Linked DNA regions of Homo sapiens: regions 1, 2, 3, 4 and 6 are each linked to region 5. Evidence: fine-mapped expression QTL. A gene starts in region 5. Each other region holds a variant in brackets. All regions are shown on one strand. Distances are between the middles of the regions. Region 1 overlaps MDN1 (midasin AAA ATPase 1). Region 2 overlaps CASP8AP2 (caspase 8 associated protein 2). Region 3 overlaps ANKRD6 (ankyrin repeat domain 6). Region 4 overlaps MDN1 (midasin AAA ATPase 1). Region 5 holds the start of LYRM2 (LYR motif containing 2). Region 6 overlaps MDN1 (midasin AAA ATPase 1).

Evidence for each region. PIP is the estimated chance that this variant, and not a neighbour inherited with it, causes the effect. A credible set is the group of variants that fine-mapping cannot tell apart.
Region 1: its variant is the best candidate, but not a certain one, in a credible set for the expression of LYRM2 in gastroesophageal junction (GTEx, PIP 0.88).
Region 2: its variant is the best candidate, but not a certain one, in a credible set for the expression of LYRM2 in whole blood (INTERVAL, PIP 0.66).
Region 3: its variant is the best candidate, but not a certain one, in a credible set for the expression of LYRM2 in unexposed skin (GTEx, PIP 0.57).
Region 4: its variant is the best candidate, but not a certain one, in a credible set for the expression of LYRM2 in subcutaneous fat (GTEx, PIP 0.68).
Region 6: its variant is the best candidate, but not a certain one, in a credible set for the expression of LYRM2 in esophagus mucosa (GTEx, PIP 0.54).

What each region holds. Positions count from the first base shown.
Region 1 is chr6:89,678,056-89,683,169 of GRCh38, forward strand. It overlaps MDN1 (midasin AAA ATPase 1), which reads right to left. Exons shown (of 102, transcript NM_014611.3): 73 at 5,077-5,114; 74 at 2,534-2,696; 75 at 544-690. The region is part of intron 2 of MDN1-AS1 (MDN1 antisense RNA 1); the gene reads left to right. Among named protein-coding and RNA genes, the nearest start is that of LYRM2, 42 kb to the left of the region's middle. The variant C/A (reference allele first, on the strand shown) is at 2,669.
Region 2 is chr6:89,856,732-89,861,845 of GRCh38, forward strand. It overlaps CASP8AP2 (caspase 8 associated protein 2), which reads left to right. Exons shown (of 10, transcript NM_012115.4): 6 at 353-468. Among named protein-coding and RNA genes, the nearest start is that of CASP8AP2, 29 kb to the left of the region's middle. The variant C/CT (reference allele first, on the strand shown) is at 2,822.
Region 3 is chr6:89,609,486-89,614,599 of GRCh38, forward strand. It overlaps ANKRD6 (ankyrin repeat domain 6), which reads left to right. Exons shown (of 16, transcript NM_001242809.2): 6 at 2,787-2,885; 7 at 4,307-4,405. The region is part of intron 1 of LOC124901359 (a long non-coding RNA gene); the gene reads right to left. Among named protein-coding and RNA genes, the nearest start is that of MDN1-AS1, 26 kb to the right of the region's middle. RefSeq lists a silencer at 1-96. The variant G/A (reference allele first, on the strand shown) is at 2,751.
Region 4 is chr6:89,667,023-89,672,136 of GRCh38, forward strand. MDN1 (midasin AAA ATPase 1) reads right to left here. Exons shown (of 102, transcript NM_014611.3): 83 at 3,897-4,058; 84 at 992-1,129. The region is part of intron 1 of MDN1-AS1 (MDN1 antisense RNA 1); the gene reads left to right. Among named protein-coding and RNA genes, the nearest start is that of LYRM2, 31 kb to the left of the region's middle. RefSeq lists a silencer at 1,188-1,482. The variant A/G (reference allele first, on the strand shown) is at 2,599.
Region 5 is chr6:89,636,478-89,640,919 of GRCh38, forward strand. It overlaps LYRM2 (LYR motif containing 2), which reads right to left and starts at 2,270. Exons shown (of 3, transcript NM_020466.5): 1 at 2,195-2,270; 2 at 1,265-1,405; 3 at 1-876. The coding sequence starts at 2,239. The coding sequence ends at 796. MDN1-AS1 (MDN1 antisense RNA 1) reads left to right here and starts at 2,055. Exons shown (of 4, transcript NR_111915.1): 1 at 2,055-2,159. RefSeq lists enhancers at 1,018-2,217, 1,570-1,799, 2,020-2,069.
Region 6 is chr6:89,738,136-89,743,249 of GRCh38, forward strand. MDN1 (midasin AAA ATPase 1) reads right to left here. Exons shown (of 102, transcript NM_014611.3): 31 at 5,015-5,114; 32 at 2,099-2,243; 33 at 191-320. Among named protein-coding and RNA genes, the nearest start is that of MDN1, 79 kb to the right of the region's middle. The variant GATGGTGAAACCCC/G (reference allele first, on the strand shown) is at 2,912.

The sequences.
Region 1 (5,114 bases), 42 kb after region 5:
GAGGTCAGGAGATTGAGACCATCCTGGCTAACACGGTGAAACCCTGTCTCTAGTAAAAATACAAAAATCAGCCGGGTGTGGTGGCACGCGCCTGTAGTCCCAGCTACTTGGGAGGCTGAGGCAGGAGAATCGCTTGAACCCAGGAGGCAGAGGTTGCAGTGAGCCAAAATCACGCCATTGCACTCCAGCCTGGGCAACAAGAGGCGGAGGTTGCAGTGAGCTGAGATCACACCGCTGCACTAACCAGCCTGGGCAACAGAGCGAGACTCAGTCTCAAAAAAATAAAATTAATTAAATAAATAAATAAAAATATAGATTCCGAGAAACCTCATACAAAGCGGGAAATATTTGGGAATCATGGATGGCTGGTCATAGGATTTTCCTGCATGTGAGTGGAACTCTTAGACATCTGGAAACCTTGCCTGTACCTTCTGTTGTCCACCATCTCAACTGTCTATGGAATTTCCCCCAAAATCAGTCATGTCATTTCTCTCCCTAAAAGTTGGTGACTACATTTCATTGGGTTTCAAGTGAGAACCTTACCAATTTTTGCAAGGTGTTTAAAGAGGTCTGACAAAGCTCGCTGTTTTTGCATGAGAATGTGCTTGGCTTCTGACCGCTGCTTCTCCTTCTCTGCAGAGGGTTCCACCTTTAAGCTCTGCAGCTCACTCACAGAGGAAATCACTTCACCTGTAAGGGAAAACAAGGCGGGGAGGGGAGACAATAAGAAAATCCCAGGGGTCTGGTAATGTGTTTGTTACCCAACACCAGGGACCTTCTGGAGAACAAAGGCCAAGTATCATTCATCTTTATACCCTGGGTACTTAACATAGTCCCTAGCATTTGGTAAAATCTCATTAAGTGTTTTAACCAAACTGGTCAAGGTGCATGGAAATAGAAAAATAACACACAGGATTTCAAATCTCTTGACAATAACAACCCGAACAGCAGCAGTCATTCTTTTGTATTTAGGGGTTTTATAATCAATCAAGCAAATGCACTTACTGAGCACCAACTATGTGCAGTGCATTATACTAGAAATTTATAATCACTTGAAGGAAATTTCAGATTAATATAATATGTATTGAGTTTCCACTTGTAGCTAGTACATCGTAAATTCTCTTTTCATGTGCACAACTTCAGAAGCACCTATTTGTAGCTCCATTTTACAGACTTCAAGAAAGGCTCAGTGAGGTCTAGTCACTATCTGAAGGCCATGTGGTGAACGAGTAGATGAGCCAGGACTTGAACACTGGCCTACCTTACTCCAAAGCCCAAGTTCTTTCTATATAGCACCAAGCTGCCTTCCTGAATACACGTGGGTACCAATAACACAAGGGTGCCGCCTCCCTGTTGCAGGCAGTGTTATAGGCTGGGTTGTGTCTTCCCCCTCAATTCATATGTTAAAGTCCCAACCCCTAGAACTTCAGAATGTGACTGTATCTGGAGACAGGGCCTTTAGAGAGGTAATGAAGGTGAAATGAGAATGGGCTCTAATCTAATCTGACTGAAGTCCTTAAAAGAAGAGATCAGGACACAGAACACACAGATGAAGAGTGACCACGGGAGGACACAGTGAGAAGGTGGCCATCTGCAAGCCAAGGAGAGAGGCTTCAGAAGTAATCAACCTTGCTGACACCTTGATCTTGGACTTTTAGCCTCACACTGAAGCCACCCAGTCTGTGGTACTATATTAAGGCAGCACTACCAGCCAAATATAGGCAGTCACCAGTGAGCACAAGGACACCAAAGACATCAGACAGTGTGGGAGAGTTAGAGGATGAGGGAGGCTTTGCATCCTGCAGCGCATCCCCTCTCCAGGAGATGCAAATGGATCTGTATTCCACTCACCCCCACCCCTAGGCCTGAGTCACCTTGAGCAACGGCTGACAAGTTTTAAAAAGGAAGAGCTCCCTGAGATTAGATGCAACCTCATTAAAGGCAGGCCACCCTCACTGACAGCACACTCACTGCAGTTGGGGGGTAGATGGGGTGAAGGAGGTAGTCAGAGGCTGCCAGGGGCCCAAACATTCTATTAAATTCTGGGTTCCCTTCCCAGCTATTGCTGTGTTACACTATGAGATCTTCGCTCTCACCTTCCCTGAGCAAAGACAGCCTGAGAAATGAAACTGCTGTGCCTCTCTGAAGTGAAGAAAGCAAGAGGATGGGGATGAATCCTCCTCAAGTGAGACAACTTTTTGACAGTGGGGACAGCTTAGACACTGGGAAATCCACCTCTGTGCCCCTTTACTGGTAACACCAACCAACAGGAACTAGTATAGACAAGGCTCTCATAAAAGATGGCACAGTGCCAAGTTACATGAGAGGACGACAATGTGAAAATTATGATTGTGTGTTCTCAGTAGGCTCCTGTTTCTGAGCTCTGTGGGTTTTTAAGCCCACTTGCTTATTCAATCAACTGTTCAACACTACACAAGGTATCAAAAAAGGACACAGTTGCCACATTCTCAGCCCTCCTGCGCCACTGGGGAAAACAGAAAGATCCACCCTTGACTTGGATGCTGGCACCCACCTGTGAACTGATCAAGGCCCTCCACAAGGCGAGGCAGGGGGCTCTCCTTCATGAACGTCAGGCACATCTTCCTCATGCGTTTCCTGAGCTTTGGCAAGCGACGCAGAAGCTCCCCTTCCAAGCCGGAAGGAGCAG[C/A]GCCCTGACACCACTCTGGAATTGTGGCCTGTGAGACAAAAGACAGGTTAGCCTCACTGCCAAGAATGACAGGCAGTGTCCCTGCAAGGGAACTAAATTTAACTGTTGCACACAAAAACACATCCCTAGTTCAGCAAATAGAGAACAAATGTAGCATCACTAAAATTAAAAGAGACATACTGTGGATATTTAGAAAACCATATTACTGCTCCATATGAGATCATTATAACTGAAGGACCCCCATGCCCCTACATCCAGCAATGCTTGCTATGATAGCCACAAGGAGACTCCAGTTCTGAATTATGAACAGAGTAGAATGAATAATATCACTGCTGCCCTTAAGGTGCTGAGCCACATTGTGTTTCTCAGACACAGCAGCCAGGCGAAACTGGTCCTACTCCTGTGACCAGTTACCCCTAATTAACAGTTTAAATTTCAGGAATTCAGATTTCTTTCCTTTTTTTTTTTGAGACAGGGTCTGGCTTTGTCACCCAGGCTGAAGTGCAGTGACCCGATGTTGGCTCACTGCAACCTCCGCCTCCCAGATTCAAGTGATTCTTGTGCCTCAGCCTCCCGAATAGCTGGGATTGCAGGCATGCATCACCATGCCTGGCTATTTTTTGTATTTTTAATAGAGATGGGGTTTTACCACGTTGGCCAGGCTGGTTTCGAACTCCTGGTCTCAAATGATCTGCCTGCCTTGGCCTCCCAAAGTGCTGGGATTACAGGCATGAGCCACCGCACCTCAGACACAGGAATTCAGATGTTATATGAAGGGAAGAGCTTTCGTCCATCAAGGGCATATTTTCATTTTTTTTTCCTTGAGGAATAACCTGAAACTCCTATGTTGTCATTATTAGCAAATCAAAATTGTTGATCAGAATGACAGAAGCAGTGAGCTGACAAATACAGTCAAAAGAAAATAAATTTGGTAGCCATATCATATCTCTGCAGCCATCTTATGGCTGTATGCTCAGTTTCTATTATGAGTTTTGAACCACTAAAATAACAAAAATAGCTTAAGGACTTTCATTACTAACTCTGTGAGCCCCAGGTAGGAAATACAGTAAGAAGACAAAGCTAATTACTCTTTAAAAAGTAATTTTTTTTGGAGAGACAGGGTCTCATACGTTGCATAGGCTGGTCTCAAACTCCTGGGCTCAAGTGATCCTCCTGCCTCAGCCTCCCAAGGTGCTGGGATTACAGCCGTGAGCCACTACGCCTGCCCAGAAATTACTCTCCTGAGGGGTGTCTTCCAATCCTGGAGCTCCCCACACCCAAGGACATGAAGCAGGAACATCCATTCTGTAACAGACCTGCTAACTCAAGATGTATCACTGTTAAATTTTCAGGAATTTTGCAAGCCAAATCTTAACTGTTGGTGCTTGAAATTGGCCATAATAGGAGTATTTACACCACAGTAATCAGCATCTGCTATAAACCAGCACATCACGGCACATATTCACACCCTGTGCAGTAGCTTCCTCATGTGGTAGCCCACAGGCAGCTTCAACGGCATATTCTTAAACTGATGCTTCAAATCTTTGCTCATAGCAGATGAAATGTTCACAGGTAAAAGCACAATTATTTCTCACAGGCTGACATTAAATTTTAAGCAGCAAGGCCAAGTGCGATGACTCATGCCCATAATCCCAGCTCGTTGGGAGGCCGAGGCAGGGAGGATCACTTAAGACTAAAAGTTCGGCCAGGAGCGGTGGCTCCCGCCTGTAATCCGAGCACTTTGGGAGGCTGAGGTGGGCAGATCATGGGGTCAGGAGATCGAGACCATCCTGGCTAACACAGTGAAACCCTGTCTCTACTAAAAATACAAAAAATTAGCCAGGCGTGGTGGTGGGCACCTGCAGTCCCAGCTACTCGGGAGGCTGAGGCAGGAGAATGGCATGAACCCAGGAGGCGGAGCTTGCAGTGAGCCGAGATCGTGCCACTGCACTCCAGCCTGAGCGAGACTCTGTCTTAAAAAAAAAAAAAAAAAAAAAAAAAAAACTAAAAGTTCAAGACCAGCCTGGGCAACAAAGTGAGACCTCATCTCTACAAAAAAAAAAAAAAAAAAAAAAATAGCCAGGCATGGTGGCATGTGCCTGTGGTCCCAGCACTCAGGAGGTTGACGTGGAAGGATCATTTGAGTCCAGGAGGTTGAGACTGCAGTGAGCCATAATCATGCCTGGGCAATAGCACGAGAATCTGTCTCAAAAAAAAGCAAAAAAAAAAACCCCAAGATTTTTTGCCTTATTCTGCAGGGAAGTCAGGCAAATACATGCTATATATGTCCAAAGAACAAGATTTCAAAGGCATTTTCTTGTCTAGTACTGAGGCATGCCTTGCACATAAAACACAGATCCCACTTGACTGGCTTGGGAATAAGCCAGCACTGTCCCACAACCAAGTACCTGCCCAGCTGCTGGTTGGGCTAACAGGGTCTCCCTCA
Region 2 (5,114 bases), 220 kb after region 5:
TGCAAGTTTAACCAAAGCTGTTAAATTATAACCTAATTCTTACCATTTTTATTTTCAATTTTCAAGATCATGACCCAGGCAGAACTTACTTTTTCTGCTGTTCATTGGTTTTTCATTTCAATCTCTGTTTTAAGTAGTTTCACTTTAAGTGGGACTATTTCTGGTGCCAGTTATCTTCTCATAGTCTCAGCTTCCCCACCTGTATAAGGGGGATAAATAGTACTCCTCATAGGGCTTATAAATGTATGATGCCTGCATGTAGTTAACATTCAATAATTATCAGCTAATGTATGTAGTAGTATTAGTAACCCTATAGGTATGTACTTTATTAATATAGTTTGTGGTGTTTTAGAATTTCAGCTTAATAAACGAAAACCAGTCTCTTAAGAAGAATATTTCAGCACTTATCAAAACTGCCAGAGTGGAAATAAACCGCAAGGATGAAGAAATAAGTAATCTTCACCAAAGGTATTACTGAGCGGTGTAGCTGTTATAAATTACGTGGGTATTGATATGTGGAATATTTTTAACTTTTAGAGGAAAGATGAAAATAATGTATTTTTATTTTTTATTTTTTAATTTTTTTTTTTTTTTAGAGACAGGGTCTCATTTTGTCACCCAGGCTGGAATGCAGTGGTGTAATTATAACTCAATGCAGCCTCCACCTCCTGGGCTCAAGAGATCCTCCTTCCTCAGCCTTCCAAGTAGCTGAGATAACAGGTGCACAACACCATGTCTGCCTAATTTTTTTATTTTTTATTTTTGGTGGAGACAGGGTCTCACTATGTAGCCCACACTGGTCTTGAACTCAAGGCCTCAAGTGATCCTCCTGCCTCTGCCTCCTGAAGTGTTGGGATTATAAGGGTGAGCCACCATGCTTGGCCCATATGTGATTATTAATAGAACATTGTGGCCAGGCGCAGTGGCTCGTACCTGTAATCCCAGCACTTTGGGAGGCTGAAGGGGACAGATCACTTGAGCTCAAGAGTTCGAAACCAGCCTGGCCAACAGGGTGAAACCCTGTCTCTACTAAAAATACAAAAATTTGGCTGGGCATGGTGGCTCATGCCTGTAATCCTAGCACTTTGGGAGGCCGAGGCGGGCAGATCACCTGAGGTCAGGAGTTCGAGACCAGCCTGACCAACATGGTGAAACCCCATCTCTACTAAAAAAAAAAAAAAAAAAATACAAAATTAGCTGGACATGGTGGCGCATACCCAGCATCACAGCCACTCGGGAGGCTGAGGCAGGAGAATCTCTTGAACCCAGGAGGCAGAGGTTGCCGAGATTGTGCCATTGCACTCCAGCCTGGGCAACAAGAGTGAAACTCCATCTCAAAAAAAAAAAAAATATTAGCCAGGCATGGTGGTGGGTGCCTGTGGTGGGTGCCTGTAATTCCACCTACTTGGGAGGCTGAGGCAGGAGAATTGCTTGAACCTGGGATGACGCAGAGGTTGCAGTGAGCTGAGATCATACCACTGCATTCCATCCTTGGTGACAGCAAGACTCCATCTCAAAAAAAAAAAAAAAAGGAAGCAAATAAAAATAGAACATTGCCACATATTTATCTGAATATATTTAGTTTCCTAAAACACTGAGTTCTTGCTCTAATACTGTTTGCCCTGATGAGATGATGGTATATATGTCATGGGTTCTTCTAGGTCCCCACTAAATTACTAAAATATCAAGAGGGCATCTGTGCTCATATACCCTATTAATAAACAGCCCTTATACTATCTCTCAATTGTATATTCTTTTCTTTCTCAAGGGGATTTTCTCCATTAATTTCTCTCTTTTATTGGTTGGAGGCAATATTTTGCTCCAGAGAGGTTCATATTTTCATAGCCTAACCTCTGAAAAAGTTGTCTAAACTTGTAAACTTGTTTTCATTTTCTTTCTTTCTGCTAACTCACTTTTTATTTTTTTTAAGATGGAGTCTCACTCTGTCGCCAGGCTGGAGTGCAGTGGCGCGATCTTGGCTCACTGCAACCTCCCCCTCCTGGGTTTAAGCAATTCTCCTGCCTCAGCCTCCTGAGTAGCTGGGACTACAGGCACGCGCCACCATGCCTGGCTAATTTTTGTATTTTTAGTAGAGATGGGGTTTCACCATGTTGGCCAGGGTGGTCTTGATCTCTTGACCTCATGATCCGCCTGCCTCAAGCCTCCCAAAGTGCTGGGATTACAGGCGTGAGCCACTGTGCCCGGCCATTTTTTTTTTTTTTTTTTTTTTTGACAGAGCCTCACTCTGTCGCCCAGGCTGGAGTGCAATGGTGCAATCTCACCTCACCGCAACCTTCGCCTCCCAGGTTCAAGCGATTCTGCCTCCTGAGTAGCTGGGATTACAGGCGCTCGCCACCACACCCGGCTAGTTAAAAAAAAATTTTTTTATTTTTTGAGATGGAGTCTCGCTCTGTTGCCCAGGCTGGAGTGCAGTGGCGTGATCTTGGCTCACTCCAACCTCCGCCTCCTAGGTTCAAGCGTTCTCCTGCCTCAGCCTCCCGAGTAGCTGGGATTACAGGCACCCGCCACCACGCTGGCTAATTTTTGTATTTTTAGTAGAGACGGGGTTTCACCATGTTGGTCAGGCTGGTCTCGAACTGCTGACCTCAGGTGACCCACCTACCTCGGCCTCCCAATGTGCTGGGATCACAGGCATGAGCCACCGCACTCAGCCTACACCCAGCTAATATTTTTGTATTTTTAGTAGACACGGGGTTTCACCATGTTGGTCAGGCTGGTCTTGAACTCCTGACCTCAGGTGAGCCACCCACCTTGGCCTCCCAAAGTGCTGGGATTTCAGGCGTGAGCCACTGTGCCCAGA[C/CT]TTTTTTTTTTTTTTGGCAGAGTCTTGCTCTGTTGCCCAGGCTGGAGTGCAGTGGTGTGATCTCAGCTCATTGCAACCTTTGCCTGCTGGGTTCAAGCGATCCTCCCACCTCAGTCTCCCGAGTAGCTGGGATTACAGGCATGCACCACCTGTAAAAAAAAATTTAAAAAAAAAAAAAGATTTTTTTGTATTTTTAGTAGACGGGGTTTCACCATTTTGGCCAGGCTGGTCTCAAACTCCTGATCTCAAGTGATCTGCCCGCCTGGCCCTCCAAAGTACTGGGATTACAGGTATGAGCCACTGCACCCAGCTTCAAGGGTGTTCCTTTTGTGGTTAGTGCTTTTCGTGTTTACATTTCCCCAATGATCTCAAAGGTATCTACCAACAGTTGGTCGGTTGAGTCAGTATCTATATTAGTTTCCTAGGCTTAGTGTAACAAAACTACCAGAAATGGGTGGCCTAAACAACCAAAATTTGTCTCACAGTCCTGGAGGCTAGAAGTCCAAAATGAAAGTGTCAGCAAAGTTAGTTTCTTTTGAGAGCTCTGAAGGAAGGATCTGATTCAGGCCTCTGTACTCTTAGATGGTTGTCTACTTCCTATGTCTCTTTATATCCTCTTTCTAAATGTATCTCTGTGTCCAAATTTCCCCCTTTTTATAAGAACACCAGTAATATTGCATGCCCACCTTGAGGACATCACTTTAACTTGATTATTTCTGTAAAGACCCTTTAAATAAGGTCATATTCTGAAGAACAATGGGTTAGAACTTCAAATTATGAATTTGGTCAGGAGAGGGGACACAATCCATAACAGGGTTCATATGAGGCTTACATATTGTTTTAGGTTGTGTGTTTTTCTAATCCTCTCTTATAACAATCTGCCTATATTTCTGAGTTTTTTAAGTTTTGGGTTTTTCTACACATTTGCTACTGATTAGAAAAAGATATATGAAATTTCAGAGAAATTATGGAATTTCTGGAAGATGAAGTTATTACCAGAAGCCAATATAGGCCAGGCACAGTGGCTCACGCCTGTAACCCCAGTACTTTGGGAGGCGAAGGCAGGAGAATTGCTTGAGTCCAGGAGTTTGAGACCAGCCTGCGCAGCATAGTGAGATCCCATCTCTACGAAAAATTAAAAATTAGCTGGGCATGGTGGCTTGTACCTGTAGTCCCAGCTACTTGGAAGGTTGAAGTGAGAGGATTGCTTGAGCCTAGGACATCAAGGCTGCAGTGAGCCATGATCATTCCGCTGTACTCAGCCTGGGTGAAAGAGGGAGACCCTGTCTCAAAAAAAAAAAAAAAAAAAAAAAAAGCTAAATTGAGCTATCTACATTTTATTGCTAGGAAACCTACCAGTTTTTTTAAACACTAATATAAAACCTTAAGACTTAGATTTTTGTTTGTTTTAAACAGTAAATATATACCATTCTCCTAGGAAAGAATTACAACTCTTTATTCCTTTTTACTTTGCGTAGTATATAACATCTTAAGATGGCCTTTGGTGCTTTGGCTTGCTGTGGGATTGTATGTGAAACAGAAAACTAGGATAGAGAATTATGTAGAGTTTTACTTTGTTCATGTCTGTTGTTTAGCAAGATTTTACTTTTCCTTGTGTTTCAGTTGAGCTAGAATGAATAAGGCAAGAAAATAATGTCACTTGTTCTAAAAGAAGTGAACTTGTGGTTAGCTGGGGAGTTATGCACTGTAGTGAAGTAAGTCTAAGAGCCATTGGCAAGTATTGGGATAGATCCTCAGGTCCTCAAAACTTATTTGAGCAAGGCACATGAAAGAGAATTTCATGTTTTAAAAACAGGCTAATTTAGTTGGAAGCTGGTAATTTCTTTTTCTTCTTTTTTTTAGGGACAGGGTCTCACTTCGTTCTGTCACCCAGGCTGGAGTGCAATAGCGCAATCATGGCTCATTGCAGCCTCAACCTCCTGGTCTTAAGTGATCCTCCCACCTCAGCCTTCCGAGTAGCTAGGACCACAGGCATGTACCACTATGCCTGGCTAATTAAAACAAAAAATTTTTTTAGAGACAGGATGTCACCATGTTGCCCAGGCTGATCATGAACTCCTGGGCTCAAACAAATGATCCTCCCGCCTTGTCCTCCTCAAGTGCTGATATTAGAGGCATGAGCCACCACATCTGGCCAAAGCTGGTAATTTCTTTCTCAACCAGGAGGTTGAGGCTGAGACAGAGTCTTGCCCTGTCACCCAGGCTGGAATACAGTGGCGCAGTCTCGGCTCACTGCAACCTCCACCTCCCAGGTTCAAGCAATTCTCCTGCT
Region 3 (5,114 bases), 27 kb before region 5:
GAGACAGCGTTTCACCATGTTGGCCAGACTGGTTTTGAAATCCTGACCTCAGGTGATCCACTCACCTTGGCCTCCCAAAGTGCTGGGATTACAGGAGTGAGCCACCGAACCCGGCCTGTAATCACCACGTTTTTTTGTTTGTTTGTTTGTTTTGAGACAGAGTCTCACTCTGTTGCCAGGCTGGAGCGCGATCTCGGCTTGCTGAAACCTCTGCCTCCCGGGTTCAAGCTATTACGCTGCCTCAGCCTCCTGAGTAGCTGAGACTACAGGCACACACCACCATGCCCAGCTAATTTTTGTATTTTTAGTAGAGACGAGGTTTCACCATGTTGGCTGGGATGGTCTTGATCTCTTGATCTTGTGATCCACCCACCTCGGCCTCCCAAGGTGATGGATTACAGGCGTGAACCACTGCACCCAGCCCAGAAATTGTTTCTGTGTAAATAAAATGGCTTCAGAAGGACAGGTCAGGAAACTCATGCGTCTCAAAGGGAGGGACATTTTGTACCAGCCATAGCCCGTAGAAAGATCCTTCTTATTCAGCAGATGTAGCAGCTCCTGTCTGGGAAATCAGTACCCACTACTCAGGGTGGGGAAAAACGCCTGCTACATATATATCTACCCTAGGTCACATTTTCTAATGTCAGGTTTTGAGATATAGGTATGAAGTCACGCTGTTCTGTGAGTTTTGACAAATGTATACGGTTGTGTAACCCCCACCATAAGATATAGAATGTTTCCATTGCCCCTTAATGTTCCTTTGCGCCCTCTGGTGGCAGGCCCCCAGTCACCCTCTCCCAGCCCCGGGCAACCACGGATCTGTTTTGCTTGTTCATAAAGGTCATGTAAATGGAATCATACAGTATGCGGCCTTCTGTGTGTGGCTTCTTAAACTTAGCATAATGTTTTTGAGATTCCTCCGTGTCGTTACATGGAGGAATGGTTCACGCCTCTTTATTGCTGAGGAGTATTCCATTGTGTGGATCTACCACAATTTGTTTATCCAAACCTATGGTTTTTAATTTTCTTGGTGCAAATGCTTTTCCACATCATCGATATTTCCTTATTGGCAATATAAGCTTTGGTATGATCTATTTCTAGAGGCATCAGATTTCTTTCATTTCACTCATGTATTCAACACGTATTTAGTGGTTGCCATGAAGCCCATAACTTGCAGACAACTTGAGAGTAGTGTTTTTAAAACCTGGGCAGACCCCTTGTTGCTGAGAACTAAACTAGCAGTGGTTCTCCACCTGGCTGCACATTAGACCCTCCTGGGGAACTATAAACAAACGAAAAAGGAAAAAAAACAAAACTTAAAAAAAAAAAAAACCTGAAGACCAGGCCTGGGGTGATGGACTGTCCCAGTTTGCCCTGGGCTAAAGGGTTTCCCGGAATGTGGGACTTTCAGTACTAAAATAGGGATGCTGGATACCCATCCCCAAGGCCACATAAATCAGAGTCCCTAGAACGGTTGTGGCTGTGCACAGGGCTGGTTTGAAAGCTTCCCCAGGTGATTCTAATGTGCACCCAAGGGTTGAGAACCAGCGAGCCTGCTAGAACCTCAGGCCTGTAATCCTCCCTGTGCCTGGAGGTAAAAGTGAGACAAAAGGTCCACCAGGGCTGGTTGGAGCTAAGGTGAAGAGAAGGGGGATAAGCAAACTGGCCGCATCCAGTATTCCTCTATTTTTTTTTTTTTTAACTCATTTCTCTTTTTAAAAGATCAGGAATCTGATATACTGGAGTATCGGCAGCCAGGACTGTGAGATCCAGAAGGGTGTGAACTAGGTGAGGGAGAAGCAATGAACAGGCAGTGTAATGCTCTGAGCCCACGCACCTGCAAGCCTGACCCAGCACTTGAGCTCAGCAGAACCAACGCGGAGCTTCTGTGTTTAACCTCCTGAGTGCTTGCAGGCTCTTGGATGACACAATGTCACCTATCACACGGCCTTGCTTTCTTGTTACTTTTCTAGGGGTTATCAGCGGCCTCACATGCCCTACTCCCATAGACTCAAAAGTTCTGTTCATGTCCTGCAATTTTTTCCTGCAGTATTGCTATGGACCTTATTCTGACCCTTGGTTGTCATTGTGATGTGGTTTGTTGAGGTTCTCAAAAACAAGAAGGACCCAAAAAGCAAGAGGGTCTCAATCTGTGTCCTAAGTGATAGATGCAACTGTACTGCCTGAAAGGCAGGGCCTGGTGTCCATAGTTAAAATTTTGATGTTTCAAGAAAAATACAAGAATGGGTGACTTGAAAAAGGCTAACAAGTTAAATCTCAGTTGCATTAGCCTGCCCTTCCAGGAAGTGGCTAGTTTTACTTTTTTTAGCCCACCATTGGCAGGGATTGTAACCACAGCTATTGCCCATGTGGGGCAGGAAGTCATCTGATAGGAATTGAGTACTGTGCATGTGTCCAGCATTGTGTGTTAAGAAAACACCTTCCTAGACACTCTGAGTCAATCCCCATAGTTTTAGGATGTGGGGGTCATGCTCCATTTCCCAGGTAAGGAATTTGAGCATTTGAAAAGGCTGGCTTTTAGTTAGTAAGTTGCAGAGCCAGGACTTGGAACCAAGGTTTTATGACAAATAGGACTCTTCTGCCTGTTCAGACTCCAAATTAAATGTTCTTACCTCTGAAGCATCCCCACTGAAACCATCGGGCAAGAGGCAGAGAATGTGAGCGTTGCCTTTTCCCCCGAGTAAGTACTGCCCCTCTGCAAGGCATGCAAGTCTGTGCGGAAGCATGTT[G/A]CTAATATGTCCTCCCTCTCTCTGCCTCTCTCCAAGGCGGGGAACACAGCTCTGCACCTGGCCTGCCAGAACAGCCACTCCCAGAGCACGCGCGTCCTCCTGCTGGCCGGGTCCCGCGCTGACCTCAAAAATAATGTGGGTGAACAAAACCAGATTCTCACGTTCTCTCTTTCTTGTGTCACTTCAGAAAATAACTTCATGAGCATACTTGAACCTTAACATCTAGAAATTAAAATGTAAAAAGTATTTGGGGACTATCTCTAAAGTGTTCTTTTTTTGGCAATTTTCTAAGGGATCATTCAGGCATGTGAGAAGAAGAATCAAAAGACTTGGAAATACTGCTTTTCTCCCATCATTTTCCCTTCATGCCTCATCTTTGGTTTATCATTTCTTACAGTACGTGTCTGGCCAATTACAGACTAGGAAACCAGTTAATGTTTTAAGAAAGTCTCTACCCACATAGAGTGTTGAGTGTTGTACTATTATCAGCAAATATGAGCTGGTGCCATTTACAGGGGAGGTCCTCTAATGCCCCATGCCCAGCATCTATAGCGAGCAGGTCCTACTGATGACTGAGGCGTCCTTGGGATGAGCTGACCGGAAAGGTCACATGGGTATCGCTTCTTCACAAAGAAGCTGTATTTCCTTTATAAATCCCCTGCCTTAGCCACGTTGGCTAAATAAATAAATAAATCTGAGGCTTCTTTCTAAAGTGTCCTCAGGTGAGGGTCTCCCTGTTTGGGGTAGACTCATCTAATGCTCTGAACCTCAGCTTTGAGCTTGGTTCCGTCTTAATGCAGGGGAGAAAAGTATGCCAAGTGGCCAGTGTTCTCCAGACAGAGCTAGGATGGAAATGGCAAGAAAACACTGCAGGCAGCTTTTTGTCTCCAGTTCTTTATTGTCTTTGTGGGAACAGGGTTCTGCCTGTTGTGCTTACTGAGCATCCTGCCCCTGAGTTTTTCTTCATACCCTTTTTTTGCTCCCAGTGATTGCTTCCTTATGAGCTCCCCTACTACATAGCTCCATATAGGATATTGGGGTCCAACTGAAGTGGGATACTCCTTGAACTTCAGGGGGTACGTGTAATCTTAAGATTTGACAACCCCCCTGCTGCCCTGTCCTTTCATCCATGAGGGATCTATGCTGGGAAGGGCTCATTTCCAAAGCAATGCTGTTGGTCTTAAGTCAGTATACTACTGACCTTTTGGGTTGTAGGGAGGCTAGGGTCCCTGGATCCTCCTCAAGCACAGGTAAGCAGAGCCTGCCTTAGCTCTTGGAAAGGTCTCATGGGGAGCAGACGTCTAGTTTCATAAACGTGGAAGCAGTGATTCTGTGACCACGTGGTTGTTCTGCACAGGCAGAAAGGGAGCAGGGCTGCCCACAGCAGCAAAGAATGGCGAGCCTTGGGGTGGAGCATCTATGTTAAAAGAGCTGCTTATGATTCCCTAAAGAGTACATGATAGTCTGCTAGCTTTTAAATAACATTTTCTTTCTACTTTTCTCTATTTGTTTTGTAACTGCTCAGATTGTGCTTAGAGTTTGATTTTTGTCCGCAGGCAGGAGACACCTGTTTGCACGTTGCTGCGCGCTATAATCACTTGTCCATCATTAGGCTCCTCCTCACTGCTTTCTGTTCTGTCCATGAAAAGAACCAGGTCAGTGCATGTATTCTCTTCATGGCTGCCAGCACCCTTCCCACAAGGCTACCGGACAGGTCTGTTAGTGCAAACGGGAGCAGAGGCTGCTGGGAAGCTGCCATGTCACCTACCTGGGACTCAGCCAGCAGTGGGCTTTGCATGGGTGTCACACTGAGTTCTAGTGGCCCTGGCTTATCTGGCCTGCTAGAGAAAGTGTGCCCTTATAATTCCTGTGCATATCACCACATTTGCATATTGAACATTTTCTGGAGATCCTGGGGCAGGCTTTGTTTTTTAAATGTGATTTTAAAAAGAAAACCCACGAGGAAGAATGTGATTTAGTAAAGAAGCAAGGGAGGCCGGGTGCAGTGGCTCACATCCCAGTACTTTGGGAAGCCAAGGCAGGAGGATCACTTGAGGCTAGGAGTTCAAGACCAGCCCGGGCAACATAGCGAGACCCTGTCTCTACAAAAAATTTTTTTAAAAATTTGGCCGGCCGTGGTGGCTCATGCCTGTAATTCCAGCACTTTGGGAGACTAAGGTGGGTGGATCACTTCGAGTTCAGGAGTTCAAGACCGGCCTGGCCAACATGGTGAAACCCTGTCTCTACCAAAAATACAAAAATTAGCCAGGCGTGGTGGCGTGCACCTGCAATCTCAGCTACTCAGGAAGCTGAGGCAGGAGAATTGCCTGAACCCAGGAGGCAGAGGTTGCAGTGAACCGAGAT
Region 4 (5,114 bases), 31 kb after region 5:
CTTTGACACTAGCATTTCTATAAGAAAACATGGAATTTGGGGGTCAATGAATACACATAATTTAAAATTCAGCAGACACTACCAAATTGTTCTGGAAGCTTTTTATTCCATGTAATGTTTTTTGTGTGAACTTTTCTATTAGATTTGCTTTTGCTTTTGACTTTTTTTTTCTACTAGAAAAGTAGTATACACTGATTTAGATTTGAGAAATACAGAAGGCCAAAATAACAAAGCAATTATCTAAGGACAATATAGGTCCAAAAAAAAAAAATTAGAGCTCCATAACATAAATACTAGCATTATTCTTTTGGCTTTTAATTGCTTTCCAGTTTTCTCTGCCAAGGAAGGGAGGGAATTTGAATTGGTTTTCTCCTTTATTTTTAATAACTATAAAATTACCTTAAATACAAGTTTCTGATCTGATTTAACTTAGAATATAAGTGATACACCCAATACACATAAATCACTCACAAATGAGACAGGCATTTAAAAAATCCAAGCAATGTAACAATCTTAGTTCACAGCATCTGAATAGTTCAGAAGGTTGCTTGATTCCAACCAAAAAAGGATACAGATTTTTTAAAACACTCTATGCCTTAAAGATATACAACAGTAAAACCTATTAACAGCAAATTTTGGCATTATTGTTTAATGCAATTATCACTTAAGATAGCCAGGCCTTTTATGCTTAAAAATACTATCAAAAATACTCTAGAAAATCATCAGTAAATATCTGCCCATTTAAAAAAAAAAAGTAAAAATCATTTCCTCCATAATTATAGCCAAAACCAATGATGGAGTTGCCAGGTTCCTTCCTGTGGATTTTAGGCTTTTTATTTACACCCACTGCCGAAGCACCAATATATCTAGGGCTCTGTAGATCACAGATTAAAAATTATTAACCTAGTAAAAACCATTTTTATGTGTAACTTACATGTTGAAAAGAAAGAGAGTGATCTTCTGTCAACTGTATACCTATGTGAAAACGTACCTGTTCTTCATTTCCGATCTGGTCACTCACATCCTTCATGCCCTCGCCTTCTCCAATTCCACCTCCCTCATAGTCATGGAACTCAGTTGCTCCCTCTCCAGCTGAATCTTCCATAAATTCTTTGGGCAAGCAAAATCCCTTAGAAAAAAGAAAAAGGAAGTGAACAATTAGGCACAAAAGCAATTTTAAAAGGAGATTTCATTCTTGCCACAGGAAAACAATTTAAACACATACTGAATTCTTTTTCTAGCTCATTATCTTAAATCCGCTGGAAGTACAGGAGACTTCTGACATTCTTCTCCTCTTTGGTGCTAATAGTTATGCAGTTTCACAGCTTGACATCAGATTTAACATATGACTTGACTTTGTAGAAGCCTCTGGCATGTGGTCATTTGTCACTTTGCCAAGACAAAAACCTAAATGAAGTATACTAGAAGGACAGTATTTTGGAAAAAGTCCTTGAGTAAGGGCAGAACAGGCTCTGGAGAGAACACAGTCAGACATAGTAATAACTGTGAAATGTTGAAAAAAACTATTTTATACAGGAAAATAACCTGAGAAGAATACTAGCCTGCTGAGCAGAAGTAAAAAGAAAAAGTAGTAGTGACTCTCAATCAGAAAGTTTAATTTTGTAAGAGAAAATATATACTATGAAGATATATCTGAGGATGGGAATGCACAAAAAAATAAGCTGCTAATTAGCAAGGAATTAAGATCCCAAACCAGTAAACACTAATTATGACTTGGTTACACAGAAACAGCTTCCTGCGGATCAAGAGCTTTAATTACAGCCTAGATCTATTATCTTAGCACTGTCTAACCTACTCTCAAGTTCCCTTGAACTACTCAGAAAAGATATGAATACAATTTGGACACTTAGAAAAATTTTTAACAAGCCAAACCCACTTTTAGGACATATATTCTCAGAATGTTGATAGGAAAATACAGTTTGGCTTACTTGCTTAATTTTCCCATTGAACTACATTATTTAAATGAGAGACATTCAGAAATAGACAAAGAATACGACCACATAGGAGGGAGTTTCAGATGCCCTTACCAGAGTATATCATTGCAGCTGCTACGTCTGGGATAGCCACAGGGCTCCCAACATTCTGCACATATCAGAACCATTCCTACCCGCAACAGACAAAGGTTTGAAAGGCCAAAGTCATTCTACAGCCTGTCAGACAAAAGCTACGGTACAAATGGACAAATCCAGCTGAGCCAAATCTCAAGGCACCCGAACCACACATTTTCCTGCCACTATCTTTAGTATACAGTGTTTTCTCCAAGAAGCAATGGAATGTTAAGGCTGGCCTGGTGCCCACCAGAGGCGGAGAAACCTGAGACTCATTCTTTTACTTATTATTACTTTTTATTATTATTATTATTACTGTTACTTATCATTACTACAGATAAACATATTTATCCTCTTGATACAAGGCATTAGGCTTGGCTTCCACTTTTTACCTCTTTCCAGTATTTCAGAGACTCGGAACTAAGAACTCTTAATTGTTTATAAGAAATCTAGACCCCATCTTCAGTTTGTAAATTCATATCTTCCTCAAGTACATCTCATCTGTATTAAGCTTGGAGAAAATCTTAGA[A/G]TGCTAAGAACAAAAACAAAACTTATATACTCAAATGCAGGTGGTTCTCACAAAAATGCATATTAGTATAGGCAGATCTCATTTTACAAATGAGGAAACTGAGGCTTGGTGAGGTTAAGAGAGACCGAGAGCTGGATATCTCTATGACTAGACCTACCCACACCATGTTGCTGTTAGATTTCACTGTCTACTGCCCCTGAGTTTCAAGGGGAGGGTCTACAATCTCTACAACCTCAGTGCTTTTCACAATACCGGGTACATGGCTGAATGAACAAATGACTTCCCTGCTAAAGAAAAAAACTGGCTGGGCGCAGTGGCTTACACATGTAATCCCAGCACTTTGGGAGGCCGAGGTGGACAGATCACAAGGTCAGGAGATCGAGACCGTCCTGGCCAATGTGGTGAAACCCTGTCTCTACTAAAAATACAAAAATTAGCCAGGCGTGGTGGCACGTGCCTGTAATCACGTGGAGATTACAATTACAATTACAATTTTGGAGACTCTGTCTCCAAAAAAACATATATATATATATATATATATATATATATATTTTTTTTTTTTTTTTTTTTGAGATGCAGTTTTGCTCTTGTTGCCCAGGCTGGAGTGCAATGGCATGATTTTGGCTCACTGCAACCTCCGCCTCCCCGGGTTCAAACAATTCTCCTGTCTCAGCCTCTTGAGTAGCTGGGATTACAGGCACATGCCACCACGCCCAGCTAATTTTTGTATTTTTAGTAGAGATGGGGTTTCATCATAATATTGGTCAGGCTGGTCTCAAATTCCTGACCTCAGGTGATCCACCCGCCTCAGCCTCCCAAACTGCTGGGATTACAGGCGTGAGCCACCACAACAGGCGAAAAACACTCTAATAATAACAGGCCCATTATCATTTAATCATAATTACACCAACATGGTTAAAAGAAAACTTAATAGCCTTAAGGGTTTATCCTACAACTCTAGTTCAAGAGTTATCTGAAGATTTACATTGGGGATGGGAAGGGAAGGGTGTTAACAGACGGCAGCAGCTTTTAGACAGCGCTGGAGTTTAGGGAACTCGTCAGTTTGGGGGAAAGGGTGGGTTGGGGATAGGAGGTATCATCTGCAGGTTCTGAGACTTTAGTGGAAACAGCGTTAGCAAAAGGATGCCAGACAAAGCCCTAAATAATCCACAGGGAGAGCAAATCACATCCTGCTATTTGTGGTGGTCCAAAATAAAAGCCTATCACACCAAAGACTAATGACATGAAATTTACTTGGGTCCCTGCTGCTCACAGTGCACCATGTGAACAGTCCTTACCTTCTGGGCAAGCTCTGTAAAGACCTGGGCAAGCACAGAGAGCAGCTTTGCAGTACTACGGTGAGTTGCTAAAGACATGGTCAGGAAGAAGAGGACGAGGTCTGAGTAGCTGGAGAGGACCGGCACCAGGCGCACCAGCAAGGAACAGGATTGGCTGAAGAACTGAGACCAAAACAAAACAAAAGGCCTGCTCACACTGCTTGGCAGGTACCAGGTTTCCATTCTGGAACTAGATAGTGGTGGTAATTGCACAACATTGTGAATGTACTAAATAGTACTAATGGCAAGTTACATGTATGTGTTTGTAACCTCCACCCACCCCAATACACACAGCTCACTGAGATTTCTTCATTTACATATATCGTCACAAAAGTACAATCTCAAACCGATGTCTCCTTTGGCTAACAATGTTGGTTTTTTAAAAATAGAATGTTGGCCAGGCACAGTGGCTCACGCCTTTAATCCCAGCACTTTGGGAGGCCAAAGTGGGTAGACTGCTTGAGCCCAGGAGTTCAAGTTCATGTTGCCTGGGCAACATGGCAAAACCCCATTTCTACAAAAAATACCAAACAAAAAAAACATATAGCCAGAACCCATCTTTACAAAACTTTAAAAATTAGCTGGGCATGGTGGTGCATGCCTATACTGCCAGCTATCTGGGAGGCTGAGGTGTGAGGATCACCTGAGCCCAGGAGGTCAAGGCTACAGTGAGCCATGGTCATGCCACCACACTCTCCAGCCTCGACAACAGAATGAGACCGTGTCCCAAAATAAAATAAGAAAAATAAAATGTTTATAAATAAATTCTGCTGATTCAAAGTTAGCACCGGAGGCAATGCTACAGAATAACATACAATGTCCTGCAAAGTAAGTTGCTTCTCTGGACTTACTGTAAAGACTACAACTGCTTACTCTGTTCGCTTATTGTAGTGGGAATGGTGGTTACACAGGATGGCTGCTAAGCCTCAGTTGATAACATCGTCTATCAGTAACATCAGATACTTGGGAGTATGTGAATAAGATATGAAAGAATCCTAATATAATGGATATTCTGAATGGTTAGCATTTCTGCACCTATGCATCTAACAATTAGCTAGCAAGCCCTAAGCTCTTCAAAGCTTGTCAATGACTTTGCACGTATAAATAAAGAGACCAAGTTCTTAGTGATTTTGGCACTGAGGCCTGCTCTGGCACTTATCTACGTGGAGGGAAGTAAAG
Region 5 (4,442 bases):
GCATGGGGTAGAAGTGCTAACTCATACAGCAGCTGTTTCATCTTTTGAGGAACTGACCGTCTGTTTTCTGAAGTGGCTACACCATTTTACATTCCCACCAGCAATGTATGAGGGTTCTGTAATTTCTGTACATCTTCACCAAGACTTATTATTATTTCTCTTTTTAATTACAGCCATTCTAGTGAATGTGAATCTCAGGGTTGTTTTTTTTTTTTTTTTTTAGAGACTGTCTCACTCTGTCACCCAGGCTGAAGTGCAGTGGCACGACCTCAGCTCACTGCAACCTCCACTTCCTGGGTTCAAGTGATTCTCCTGCCTCAGCCTCCCAAGTAGCTGGGACTACAGGCAATGCACCACCACACCAAGCTAATTTTTGTATTTTTAGTAGAGATGAGGTTTCACCATGCTGGCCAGGCTGGTCTTGAACTCCTGACCTCAAGTGATCCACCTACCACAGCCTCCTAAAGTACTGGGATTACAAGCATGAGCCACTACACCCGACCTCATAGTAGTTTTGATTTACACTTCCCTAATGATTGTGTCCAGCATCTACTGGCCATTTGTTAGTGGTTTTTTTCTTCTTTTAAGAACTGCTGAGACATCCATAAACATTTTCAAAATGCAGGGTATGTTTTTCAGTGTTAAGGCAACTGTTCTGATGTGTTTTTCCTTTGCTCTCTATCACCAAATACTGTACATATAAATAGTAAGACTGGGCTTTGTGTTGTCCATTGTTAATCCTAAATGCAACAAAACACATGGAGACTTTGAAAATCCTTCAGAATAATGCTATAGTTAAGATTTTGCTAAAGCAAGTGTTTTTTCTAACTCCTTGAGCTGCATATTGCCTTGAGTAATCATCATCCGGATTGTATCCTGTAGAATAAAGTGAAATCTGGTTATAGTTTTACCTGGTTAAACAAGGTATAGCTATACCATTTTATCTGTTAAAATCAAGAACCAATACTACCTATTGGAACTGCTGCCTTTTAGAAAAGCTAAAAGAGTTCCACATACATACATATAAAATGTACAACATAAAAGTCAAGTGATGATGCTGAAGAGTGTAGATACTCTTTTATCTACATATTTTAAAATACTAAATTTTAAAATAATAATTTAAAATCGGTAACATTACAAGCAATGATCAAGATATACCAGCTCAGTGGCACTATATTCCAAGATGTCTGCTAAACTTAAAAAAAAAAATTCACTGATCAATAAAAAGGGTTAGGATCTGTCCTCACCATGATTTTGTTCTCACCTCTTCGGTGGCACTTTTGTTTCTTCTGAATTCTTCTCTTGCCCAATCTTTCAGGTATTTGCGATCAGAATCATTTGGAACTTGCCGAATTGTTTGCAAAATCCTTCTGTAGAGGAGAAGAACTTGTTGCCTTCTTACGAACTGTAAAAGGGAGGAGTAAATAGCAATTACTACTGCACAATCGCCAGCCTGGAAAGTTCTACTTCAGCAAACCAAGCTGTAACCAGAGTACTTCTCGTTGGTCAATTTTGAAAAAGGCAAAGAAAAACTTTTTTTTTTCTTTTTTTGGCCAGATGCAGTGGCTCAGGCCTGTAATCCCAGCACTTTGGGAGGCCAAGATGGGAGGATCACTTGAGCCCAGGAGGTCTAAGCTGAGGTAAGCCTTCATTGCGCTACTGCACTCAGCCTGGGCGAGAGTGAGGCCCTGTCTCAAAAAGATGTTTTAAAGAAAGCATCACGAGGTTCATCTGATCTTTTTGCTTACTGCTCTGTCAAACCTAAGAACCATTAAAAAATCAGGAGCTGCCTACCGGGCTGAAAAGGGCTGCCGGTCTCCTAGAAGTTGTTATTACAACGACAGCACTTTTTCTAAATTAACAGTTGTTCAAATCTTTGGTAATCTCATTTGCTGTTTGCCACAGCTCAGTGCAATAGACTTTTACCGTGGGCACTGGGCAGCTGAGGCACCGGGACTCAGGGAAATCAAGCGCCTGACGCTGTCTCACGCGATCGCACCAAACCAAGGAAGCAGCCAGTGCCTCCCGTCAGGCCCCGCGGAGCGAAGCACCGCCCCGCAGGCATCGGGCCAATCTCAGAGGGCGCGCACGCCGCATCAGGACCCCGGAACCCGCCCCGTTGGGGATAGGGACAGATGGAGAATCCAGCTCAGACCCAGGTAAGCTGCTTTGGAAGGCAGAGAACCGCCGGTACCTGCTTTAACGTTAGCGTCGCTGGGGGTAAGCGGGAAGCAGCCATGTCCACCAGAGGTCCGCCGGAGCCTCAGCGCGCAGGAGCGGAAGTGGGGTTCGACCAAGGGGTGTGGCGAGCCCGGTTTCCTAGGAGACGGCCCGCGGGTTGCTCTCGGACTGAGAGCGCGAGGCTTCGGGACTGAGCCCTAGCTGCTGCGCTGGCCGAAGTTTTCTCGTCGGTAAAATAGGATAACAGTGCACCATAGGGTCGTTTTGATAAAGAAGAAAGGTAGGGCACTTAACACAGTTCCTGGTAAAGAGAGTTCAAATGAAAGTGAAGGAGGCCGGGCGCGGTGGCTCTCACCTGCAGTCCCAAGCACTCTGGGAGGCCTGTAAGGTGCCTGTAATCCCAGCTCCTCGGGATGCTGAGGCAGGAGAATCGCTTGAACCCGAGAAGTGAAGGTTGCAGTGATCCGAGATCGCACCACTGCACTCCATCCTGGGCGACAGAGCGAGACCCTGTCTCGAAAAAAAAGTTAAGGTTTTTTTGGGGGAAAGAGGTGAAAACGTATTTAAATGTTCTTTCGAGCCTTTAAAAATGTGTATAGTTGAAAATACTAAAATTGAAAGTGTTAATTTCTTTTACAGTTTGTGTTGGTTTTTTCTCTTTCTCGTTTTTGTCCTGTTCTTTTGTAGCGCAAAGGTTTTCCGGGAGCGGTGGCCTTCATGATCATTTGAAACAAAGCTTTGAATGGCTCACCCACTTCAGTCTTAAGCACTTTTCATCACTAATAACGAGGAGCCTAACATCCCTAAGCCTCAGGCTTTTGCTTTTATTTCCTTATAGTTGTTTTATCTTTCCCACAATACACATGCCTTTGGGTTAAATCACTAGAAGTGGAGTTAGCGAATCTTTGCCATATTAATTTTCCAAGTGGTGTTGTATCGAATTAAAATAGAACGAAAAATGTTCAATTACTAGTTTACTGGGGACTTGCTTGCCTCGCCTGTTAGCATCCTGGGGCTCCCTATTCCTAGCTGTGTTCTGGCTATTTCCCCTCTCCTGGCCTATTACCTCCCCTGTAAAGTGAAATATAGCATCTACCTCAGTTGTGTATCTCTAATGTACTGAGAACAGGTCCTGGCACATGTAAGAACTCTAATCATTAGCTCTTTTGAACTTTACCAGGCATTGTATGAATGATGCTAACTGCATGATCATATTATCAATAATATATGCCAAATTTTGTCTAATACATTAGCTGTAATAGTTAATTGCTAACTTTTTAAAAGGAGTGAAGTTAAATACCCCTCGCCATTTTTAGTTATACTGTTTTTGTGAATTGTTCATGACTTGGGTCCGTTTATGATGAGGACATTTATATGGGCTCTATATTTTTTGTCATTTCTTTATACATACAGAAACTTTATACAATCATGTATTTTTGTGCCTTTTGAGGCTTTTCATTTCCCATTCAGGCCTTTGTAATTCGTTTTTTAAAAACTTTAATTTTTAAAATATTTACTCCATCTAGAATTTACTTTGGTTTACAGCATCACGTGGATCTAAGTTCTTTTCTAGATGTTAAGCTGTATCAATACCATTGATTACATAACTCATTCCTTTTTCGGGGCTTTATGATGGATGCCTTTTTGACTGTATGATAAATTCTTTTAGGGTCTGAGTAATCTGTCCAGAATTGTTTCATTTAGGGTTAAGTTTTTACTTTTTGTTTTATATGTTTTTATTATCTGGCAGGACTCTAGTTTCTTGTAAAAAATCCATTAGTACTGTTCTCTATAATCTTTAGAAATGTTTTGTATCATTTCCCTCCAAATCATCTTGTGATCTTGGTTGGAATTTTGAAGTAGTGTTGAATCTATACATTAATATGTGAGAAAGACATTTTTACATTATTTCTTCTTCCCATCAAGAAACACTCAGGCCAGGTGCGGTGGCTCATGCCTATAATCCCAACACTTTGGGATACCGAGGTGGATCACCTGAGGTCAGGAGTTCGAGACCAGCCTGGCCAACATGGTGAAACCTCGTCTCTACTAAAATACAAAAAATTAGCCGGGCCTGGTGGCGCACGCCTGTGGTCCCAGCTACTTGGGAGGCTCAGGCAGGAGAATCGCTTGAACCTGGGAGACGGAGGTTGCAGTGAGCCGAGATTGCGCCATTGCACTCCAGCCTGGGCAACAAGAGCAAAGCTCTATTTAAAAAAAAAAAAAAAAAAAAAAAAGGGCTCACTCTTGCTAGACACTGG
Region 6 (5,114 bases), 100 kb after region 5:
ATGGGACACTTTAACAGAAGGTAACAGAATAGTAATATTCTCCTTGTCTACTTTGTTTCATTTACCTATCTCCTTTCTTCTTATAACACACCATATACACACAGGGCTGATGTCCTGTAAGAGATCCCTCAACTCCCAACACAAACCCTTCTATGACCCAATACTACCATCACCACCTGCAAACTCTCACCTTTAGGATCTATTCTGCCCAGACACAATCCTGGACGAAGATTATGACTGATGATCTGAATTAAATCTTCACGGCTTGTGCTTTGAGGGCACCATATTTCTGTAAACCGGTTTCTTAAGGCAGGAGACAGCTATAAGAAACACAAAACTTCAATGTGAATTTTTAAAACTGTAAGGAAAGCTGGAAAACAAGTCTTGAAAGAATGTTGTTAGCTGTTAAGTCCAGCAAATACTACACACTTTTAAAAATTATTTCTACTATCAGATATAATTAATTGAAGATGTACTTTGTCTTGACTCCTTATATTCCATGACACCTTCCAGTATCATCATCACTTTCTTAATAGACGTGGTCCAGAGGCCTTACAGACTAAGTGGTGGAAGCAGGATTCCAGCCAGTCCCAGTCAAATCTGAACTCTTCCCCTCAGGCAAAGATTCTTCCTTTTACTTTACCTTTACTTTGCATCAGGTACCTAAATAATACTTCAGAGAAAATAAACACCTGTCTTCCCACAGAGAAGGGCAGTCTGATGTAGGAGGAAGAAACTTCTTTTACATAGCTCAATGAGAGTGTGATTTTAAAAAGTATATATTCTACCTCTTGAATAACAAGAAATTGTTTAGCCACTCCAGTCTTAGGGCCTTTGCCCCTGTAGATTCCTTTTCCCACCACAAGGTCAGTTGACACTATTCACAAATGTTTGCAATGCCACATAAGCATCATTATTGGTTTGTCTGATTACTTTGTAATTACTTTCCTTTTACTTGATGATCATCTATCTGGTCTACCACAGAGGCCCAGGAATAAAGCATACGTGTGTGTACCTCATCAGTATCATAGACAACCAGTACCTCCGGTGTCCAGCATCCTACCTTGCTCTGCTTGTTAGGCATGCGAAACTAAAAAGTAACTTTCCCTTGGGTAAAAGTCAGCAAGCATTGACTTGAGGAAAACAAGATAAGATAATCTGACAGCCAAGCTAATATACACAAACTTGAAATCAGACCTCTCTGTGGCATTTCTACTTGCCCAGAAGCCAGTTTTTATATTTTGAATGCAATGTATTTTATTCCCTCTCTTCAGAGCATATCTTGAAGCATAGAGACAATTTTCATCTTATGATACTGAGGAAACCTAGGCCCAATATATCATTTCAGCTACCCACCAAATTACCAACACTCTTAATTGTCTTATTTAAGATCAACCCCTCTGTTTCTTCTCATCATCCCTGACCTGTTACATCACTCTCTTCCTAACTTTAACAGACTGGGATCCAACACATAGTGCTGACTTCTCCACTGAAAGGTTTCTTGAGCTGGAAACCAACAAGGTTGTTGGTTCCCAAATATATCTGAACACAACCCTCTGAACATAGGAACTACCCTCTGCCCTTTACTTTATCAGCAGTCAGAAAGTGACACACATAACCCTTACGAGAACAAATAAGCTCCATCTACAAACCAGAAGAGGGTTCCTGGTTGTGACTTTTTTGTCACTTTAAAACCACCCATGAAAGCAGAGGTGTGTTTAAGAAAGTGGACTGTAAAAACAGAGGTTAAACTTAAATTTCAGATCCAACTTTTCTCATCCATAAAACTACAATAATAACTTTCTTGCAGAGCTCCTGTGAGCTTTCTCAGGGTAACATATGTAAAGGGCTAGGCAAAGTGACTGTAACAATGACATTTCAGGCACATACACAAAGTGAGATATCAAATAAGGAGATATTTGTGTCAGAATTTTTTTCTAACCCAATAATTATTTTAAAATATTTTTGAGTTTTTACACTTTTTACCCACTTTTTACCTAACATAAAATTCCAAATCCATTATTACATACTATATTTACGAGTACCAGTAAGCTGAGGTCAAAACCTAGAAAGAAAATGTGCATCAGTAAAGTTTTACCTCCTTTTTTCCAAAGTCACCCCCAGGGTTCATGGTTGCTAGAATACGAAATTTTTTCCCAGCAGTCAACAGCTCTATTTCACTATCCTTGTCCTCTGGACTGCCTTTTTCAGCTAATACCAGAGACTTTTCTACTTCAAGGACACTAAAAGAAAAATTGAAGAACAGTGAAAAGGGCTTATACAATCTTTCTGTTTTACAATCTTCAATGCTCTTTAAAAGAAAAAAAAAAGTTATCTTCTTTCTACTGAATTTTTACTTTAGTTAATGGTTTCCTATCACAAATTTTAAAATGACTCACTATCCCAATTTCTGTGTAATAATGGCTATTTCTGATCAAGAAAAAAAAACTTTTCAACTTATAAACTATTAAGGCATTGGTCTTAAAAATGAATAACTTACAAGAAAACAAATAAATTGCATGCATTATCATAATAGCCAACTACTAGAAAGAACTCAAATATCATTGACTGGTGAATGGATAAACAAAATGTGGTATATCCAATACTATTCGGGACAAAAAGGAACAAACTAATAATACGTGCTGAAATAGGAATGAACCTCAAAACATCAATGCAAAGTAAGAGAAGAGAACTTTTATCTGAAATACCCAGAAAAGAAATCTGCAGAGACAAAAAAGAGATTAATCAGAAATTTAGTGTAATGCACACAAAGGATTCTATTGAATGATGGAAATGTTGTAAAACTGGATTGTAGGCCGGGCGCAGTGACTCTCGCCTGTAATCCCAGCACTTTGGAAGGCCAAGGTGGGGAGATCACTTGAGGCCAGGAGTTGGAGACCAACCTGGCCAA[GATGGTGAAACCCC/G]ATCTCTACTAAAAATACAAAAATTAGCAGACTGTGCTGGCTCACGCCTGTAATCCCAGCTACTCGGGAGGCTGAGGCACAAGAATCACTTGAACCCGAGAGGCAGAAGCTGCAGTGAGCTGAGACTGTACCACTAAACTCCAGCCTGGGCAATACAGCAGGATGCTGTCTCAAAACAAAACAAACACAAAAACTAAATTGTGATGGTTGCAAAGCTTGAAACCACCTTTGCAAAAATTATGAGTGAGAAAAAAGTCTAACAAAAAGTTATGACAGTAAAAAAAAACACAAAAACCTGTCCTAACTGACTCCATCTTTCTTCTAGCCTCCAAGCTGCCCTTGTTCATTCCTGGGTATAGGCCAAGTAAACTATGGGAGAAATTTAGTTTACAGTTCAACTTTAAAAGAAAAGTAATAGCGCCCCCCCAAAACTAACCCCTCCTTCATAAAACTAACCAAAAGGTTAAAATTACGGCTCAGGACACAGCCAGAGGTCACGAGATTCATAACCTTCCCAATTGCTCCTATAAGATAACATCTCTATTATAAAACCTAAGATTAGTGTTTAAGGTACTTTTCAGACCCTGATTCTGATAAAACGGCTAGCACCACCTGGAATGGAAACCCATACCAAGAAGTGGCTCAACAGGTCTTATGATCCCATGAACTTATTTAGGGCAAAAAGATAGCTCAACTTCCTGTGATTTCAACCCTGTCCCAACAGCATTCCCCATTCTCTAGGCCTCTGACCCTAGCCTCGGCCGGGCACAGTGGCTCACGCCTGTAATCCCAGCACTTTGGGAGGCAGAGGCAGGAGGATCACTTGAGGTCAGGAGTTCGAGACCAGCCTGGCCAACATGGTGAAACCCCATCTTTACTAAAAATACAAAAATTAGCTGGGAGTGGTGACACATGCCTGTAGTCCCAGCTACACAGGAGGCTGAATGAAAAGAATGGCTTGAACCCAGGAGGCAGAGGTTGCAGTGGGCCAAGATCGCATCGCTGCACTCCAGCCTGGGTGACAGAAGTAGACTCTGTCTCAAAAAACAAACAAAAAAACCCTAGCCTCCAGGACGGGTGCAGTGGCTCACATCTATAATCCTAGCACTTTGGGAGGCCAAGGTGGGCGGATCACCTGAGGTCAGGAGTTCAAGACCAGCCTAGCCAACATGGCAAAACCCCATCTCTACTAAAAATGCAAAAATTAGCTGGGCCTGATGGCACACATGTGTAGCCCAGCTACTCAAGAAGCTGAGGCACAACAATCAAACTTGGAAGGCTGAGGTTGCAGTGAGCTAAAATCACACCACTGCACTCCAGCCTGGGATAAAGAGCAAGACTGTGTCTAAAAAAATAAACAAACAAACCCCTATCTTCCAAATTTTTAGGAAGCTGATTTGAGTAATAAACTCCTGTCCTTCCACTTGGCTAGCTCTGCAACTACTAAATTATTTCTCTACTGCAATACCACTAACTCAGTGACTCAGTTCTATGCATATAGCTTGCAAGAAGAACCCATCATGGGATTATAAACTTACTAAAACTCACTGAAATATACATTTTATGATATGTAAACTATACCTCAAAAGAAAAAATGGGTGTTACTACATCAAGATTCATATTGGTCTGAGGTCTGATGATGGCTTATAGCCATGGGTCTAGGATTCTGACTACAGTTCTTTCAAAATATTAAGAGAGTAGGGATATAATTCACTTTAAAAAATAGTTTTGACTTTGGCTCATGTTTTAGCCCTACCATTCCACGATCCCATTGTTCTGATTATTGATAGCAAAAAAAACCTAGAAATTTAGGAAACACTGAATGCTAAAGCCAAAAGACATGGTAATACATCAATAATTTCAAGCATTTACTAAGGTGCACCTATGAGAAGTATTACTGTGCACAAGATTAAATATCTATAAAAATCACATCAATCACCTGAGCCCAGAAGTTTGAGGCTACAGTGAACTATGATCATGACACGGCACTGCAGCCTGGGGTGACAGAGTGAGAACACTGTCTCAGGGAGAAAAAAAAAAATCACACCAACAAAAATATCAAACACAAGGCAAACCTCTCAGGCACGTACCTGTTGAGTCTTTCCAAGACAGAGTCATCGGCCAATGAGATCTCATCCAAGAGGAAAAAGCCGTCCTCCTTCATGGCCTGAACCAGAGGCCCATCATGCC